2 separate regions of the Homo sapiens genome follow, and region 2 is linked to region 1. The links come from fine-mapping of genetic effects on gene expression. A gene starts in region 1. The other region holds a variant in brackets. All regions are shown on one strand. Distances are from middle to middle. Region 1 holds the start of FAM124B (family with sequence similarity 124 member B). Region 2 overlaps FAM124B (family with sequence similarity 124 member B).

Region 1 (2,920 bases):
TTTGGCCTCCCAAAGTGTTGAAATTACAGTTGTGAGCCACTTCGCCTGGTCCAATTGCCTCTTTTAAAAAGAATTGTGTTTAGAAAAAGTGCTTGTTCATACCTGTTGAGGAGCACAGCTATCAGGAGAGCAAATGATTTTTTAAAAATATTTATTTATTTATTTATTTTTATTATTTTTTATTTTCTGAGACGGAGTCTTGCTCTATCACCCAGGCTGGAGTGCAGTAGTGCGATCTGCAACCTCCACTTGCTGGATTCAAGTGATTCTTGTGCCTCAGCCTCCTGAGTAGCTGGGATTACAGGCATGCTCCACTTTGCCCGGCTAATTTTTGTGTTTTTAGTACAGACGGGGTTTTGCCATGTTGCCTAGGCTGGTCTCGAACTCCTGACCTCAGGTGATCCACCCGCCTCGGCCTCCCAAAGTACTAGGATCAAGGCGTGACGACTATGCGTGGCCACAAATAATTTTTAAATCAATATTTAGAACACATTTAGGGTGAGTGTTTAGAGCTTGACAACTTTCTCATTGAAGATTATTCCGTTTAAGATTCAACAGCTCAAGAGTCTGCAAATCTAGATCCTTAACCAGAACTTGCTTTTATATCTTTTCCTTACAAGAAGAATACCCAGGCTGGGACTTCAAGGCCCCAGAGAGGCAGTGCAGCAAGTTCCTGGGTTCAAATCATCCTTCAGCTACTTCTTAGCTGTGAGACCTTGGGCAAGTTACCTAGCCTTTCTATGCCCCAGTTTCTTCATCTGTAATTTGGGGCTAGTAATCTCTTCTTCATAGGTTTGTTGCAAGATTAAATTAATTTACATTAAGGGCCAGGTGTGGTGACTCATGCCTGTAATCCCAGCACTTTGGGAGGCCAATGCGGGCAGATCACCTGAGGTCAGGAGTTCGAGACCAGTCTGGCCAACATGGCAAAACCCAGTCTCTACTAAAAATACAAAAAAATTAGCTGGGCGTGTTGGCGCACTTATAATCCCAGGTACTGGGGAGGCTGAGGCAGGGGAATCTCTTGAACCTGGGAGGTGGAAGTTGCAGTGAGCCAAGATCACGCCACTGCACTCCAGCCTGGGCGACAGAGCAAGACTCCATCTCCAAAACAAAACAAAACTAATTACTTTAAGAATTAGAACAGTTTATGACTGGTACATAGTAGATCCTCATTAGACACTAAAAATTATAATTACAATTGTTAATTATAATTATTTATTATTATAATTATATGAGCAATTATAGGAAAGCTCTCACTCTTTCTAAAGAATTTGCGTGAATAAAGGAAGACTAATTTTCTCAATGTCTTTTTAGTACACTCAGAATTTTCGGTACAGCAAATAATTTTCAGTGAAGTCAAAATTATTTAGATAAAGTCTTCTCTTCGTGCCCTAGCAGAAAATGTTCAGAAACAAAATGAAATAAAGAGACAAAGGAAAAAAAAAACTGGCAAAGGGTCAGGTTTTGAGAATTGTTTTCAAGAAGTCATTGTATTCAGATTGGTGGAGCAGGCTACTGTAAACCGTAAGTAGGAAATGAGAACCCGTTGTAAGTTGATAAAATGGATGTCTTTTCAACTAAACAGATTGCTATCAGCCTAACAGAGCCAACTCATGTTCCTTTTCGGCCGGTCATTTCCTGTACTAAGTGTCTATAAGAGCCGCCCATTTGGGTGTTTCTCAGGATTATAGGTTTTTAGGTCACGCAGAAACCCTGGGGAACGCCTGAAAAGGCTAAACACAAGCAGTTACATTATGCACAAGCTGGATGACGTGACCCCGCTGCTGCTGTGTGGAGAGGGAGGCTGCTGAACCCGAGCTGGTGTGAGCTTCTCTTGCCGTAAGTCCACGGGTGGCCAGGAGCACGTGTTAGTCTGGTTAAGAGCTCTGCTCAGAAGTAGCCGCTGCAGCTGAAGGTTTTCAGGCGGGCTGAAGGCTGGGCCGCTTCTTCATTCATTTCAGAAACTTGAACAGTGGGCCTTCTACACACGCTGTCTTTGTCAGCCTCAGGCAGTTCCTCCATGGATGAGACACAGGGGCCTCTGGCCATGACTGTCCATCTTCTTGCCAACTCTGGGCACGGCTCCCTTCTGCAGAGGACTCTGGACCAGCTCCTGGATTGCATTTGCCCAGAGGTCCGGCTCTTTCAGGTGTCTGAACGGGCCAGTCCTGTGAAATACTGTGAAAAGTCCCATTCCAAGCGGTCCCGGTTTCCAGGGATGTCCGTGTTGCTCTTCCTGCACGAAAGCCCGGGAGAGGATAGGCTATTTCGCGTCCTGGACTCTCTCCAGCATTCGCCATGGCAGTGCTACCCCACCCAGGACACTCGGGGAAGGCTGTGTCCCTACTTTTTTGCCAATCAGGAGTTCTACAGCCTGGACAGTCAGCTGCCCATCTGGGGGGTGAGGCAGGTGCACTGTGGCTCCGAGATCCTGAGGGTGACGCTGTACTGCAGTTTTGATAACTATGAAGACGCCATCAGACTCTACGAGATGATCCTGCAGAGAGAAGCGACCTTGCAAAAGAGCAATTTTTGTTTCTTCGTGCTCTATGCCTCCAAGAGCTTTGCTCTGCAGCTCTCCCTGAAGCAGCTGCCCCCGGGAATGTCAGTGGACCCCAAAGAGTCTTCGGTGCTGCAGTTTAAGGTTCAAGAGATCGGCCAGTTAGTGCCTCTGCTACCCAATCCATGCATGCCTATCAGCAGCACCAGGTGGCAGACTCAGGACTACGATGGCAACAAGATTCTGCTTCAGGTATTTCTGTTTTGTCTCAGATCTTGTAGAGGCTCATGGAGCTGTGTAATTTTACATCGGAATGGGCCTAAGCTAGTGGTTCTCAGACTTGGTTGCATATTAGCGTCCCTTAGGGTCTTTCATAAATTCCCACCCCAGGGCAGTTTGATCCGAATCTCTGGGAAC
Region 2 (2,920 bases), 25 kb after region 1:
ACACTAATTAGTGTCTGTAATTTGGTTTTAATTTTTACTTAGGTTGCATAGCTCATCCCCCTGGACAATATGGACTGCTATTTACTCTTGAATGCTTTTTAATTTTCATGTGACCTCTTTTGGTAACTAGGCCTTGTTCACATACCCTCCTTGTGATTTTGTCTTTAAAGTTGTTTGTATCTGGAATGAGTGAAAATGCAAAGTGTTTTGAAAATTATAAACAGTTAATTTTGTTTTCCTGTTTAATGAGCCAAAATACTGGAAGCCAGAAAATCAGGTTGAACATGAATGCTAGGCTCTAGGGCTTTCCTGCTCATCTGCTTCTCATTTGTTTCTGCACTATGTCAAAGAGGACAGTGGTTCTTGTTACAAACCAAAGAGGAACATTGAGCACAGTGGGAAAATTGGACTGGTTGATCTGGTCACTGGAGCAGGACTTGGGTTCTTCTGGCCAGATTTTGACTCCCAGATTCCTTTACAAAACGCACTCATTCATTCATTTATATATGTTCATTCAATAAACATTTTTTGAATACCTACATTTGAATAAGACATTGTGTATATGGTACATATACATTCTGGGGCCATGAAACCCAAAAAGTGTTTATGGTTTCACCACTCTGATAAATTCATTCTACCAACTTTTAAAAAGATACTGAATTCCAAATATATTCCTCCAAAAACTTTTTCCACAGTTGAGGCCCACACTGGCCACATAATGGTGTAATAAGCATTTGCAACCTGCAGATGGAGACTGGGCATATTATGAATTGCAATTATAATTGCAATGGACAAATTCTCGTTGCCCATATGCTGAATTTTTTGGATATGTCTGTACACACATGTTTAAAAATCCCGAGGCCTGTGTTTCAGTTCATTTATAAGGTTATTCAATTCCACGAACTTCACTCTCAGAACAGATGTTACATAAGAGTGTAAATGTTGATTTAGCTGGATCTTTTGGAGACTTGGAGACTTACTACACCTAACTGGAGACAGAGATGAGTTCAGTCCTAAAGTCAAATCTTGCAAAAGTGAGTCTAGGCTGATTTTGGGTGCTCTTCTCCGCAAAAGGGATAGAAACGGAGGAGAGTTGTAAATGGACAAAGACAAGACTCCTCAATTGATATTTTTTGTCCTTAAAACATCAACATATTCTCATTCCCATTTTGTCTCTCTCTCCCCTAGACTACAATTTGATTTTAGAAAACGGGATGAAGAGCTTAACTTTGGTATAGCTTTCTATAATAAGAGTTAAAACAAAAAAGGAAGTTGAACTACTGAACTTTGAATAAGCACAGCAGGAAGAAGTTTTGAAATTTCCTTCCCACTTTTTTTTTGATGTTATCTAAATTTTCTTAATATAATACATGGGTAAGAATAAAAGTA[C/A]CTGAAAATTATAAAGAATATTGAGAAATGTGAATCAGGCACCTTACAAAATTGACTTGTAAAATAATATACCCTTAAAATGTCATCTATTCTATCCTACTTGTATTATTCAGGGTTCCCTAGAGGAACAGAACTAATAGGATAGATAGATGTATATATGAAAGGGAGTTTATTAAGGAGTATTGACTCACACAATCACAAGGTGAAGTCCCACAATAGGCTGTCTGCAAGCTGAAGAGCAAGGAAGCCAGTCCAAGTCCCAAAACCTCAAAAGTAAGGAAGCTGATAGAGCAGCCTTCGGTCTATGGCCGAAGGCCCTAGAACCCCTGGCAAATCACTGGTGTAAGTCCAAGAGTCCAAAGCTGAAGAACTTGGAGTCTGATGTTCAAGGGCAGGAAGCATCCAGCACAGGAGAATGATGAAGACCAGAAGACTCAGCCAGTCTAGTCCTTCCACATTCTTCTGCCTGCTCTATTTTAGCCACGCTGGCAGCTGATTAGATGGTGCCCACCCAGACTGGGGGTGGGTCAGCCTCTCCCAGTCCACTGACTCAAATGTTAATTTCCTTTGGCAACAGCTTCACAGACACACCCAGGAACAATACTTTGCATCCTTCAATCCAATCAAGTTGACCCTCAATATTAACCATCACACTACTCAACACAGGAATTCAATTTACAACATGATGGGATGGAAATACCAGTGAACTGGGTGGGGAGGCCCAGATTTTGGTTTCACTTTTAAATTTACTATTGATGTGACCTTGAGCATGTCAGGCTCCTTTGTCCTCTGTTGCTTTATCAACTGTAACAAAAGATTGTTAGGGGAATCAAGATGTTGTATATGAAAGCATCTGGATTTCATGAAGCATTATAAATGTGTGAGTTTTTTATGATTATTGTATTATATTGTATATTATATAATATAGTGTATTATTAATACCATTGGTCCTTCGGACCCACAGTTTAAAAATATCATGAGAACAAAGGACTTCTTTTGAAACAAGTTTTAGTGAAATCAATGAGGCAACAAAAAATAAATCCACCTTTCTAAGATTTGTACTACATGTGCCATTTACTTTATGTTTCTATAGCTAAGAGGAAAATTATTTATAACAAATAATCAAATGCATCCCAAAGTTCAATAGAGATTTTATACAACAGGGATAAACTATGAACTAGCTCAATCCAATTTATCAAATTAATTAGACTTAATTAAATTAGACGGTATTCCCTAAAATGTATAATGTGTCACTTTTTAAATCTGAAAGTCTTCTGATGATCAGAATACTTTATTTTTCTATAAATAAAATCCACATCTATTGTGGGTTCAGTCCTAGACTGCTGCAATAAAGCAGATATTGCAATAAAGCAAGTCCCATGAATTTTTTGGTTTCCCAGTGCATATAAAAGTTATGTTTACAATATACAGTAGCCTATTAAGTGTGCAATAGCATTATGTCTGAAAAAAACCAATGTACATACTTTAATTAAAAAATATTTTATTTCTAAATGCTAATGATCATCTGAGC

The links. PIP is the estimated chance that this variant, and not a neighbour inherited with it, causes the effect.
Region 2: its variant is the best candidate, but not a certain one, in a credible set for the expression of FAM124B in whole blood (INTERVAL, PIP 0.51).

What each region holds. Positions count from the first base shown.
Region 1 is chr2:224,400,872-224,403,791 of GRCh38, reverse strand. FAM124B (family with sequence similarity 124 member B) reads left to right here and starts at 1,685. Exons shown (of 2, transcript NM_001122779.2): 1 at 1,685-2,755. The coding sequence starts at 2,024.
Region 2 is chr2:224,376,317-224,379,236 of GRCh38, reverse strand. It overlaps FAM124B (family with sequence similarity 124 member B), which reads left to right. Exons shown (of 2, transcript NM_001122779.2): 2 at 1-539. Among named protein-coding and RNA genes, the nearest start is that of FAM124B, 24 kb to the left of the region's middle. The variant C/A (reference allele first, on the strand shown) is at 1,390.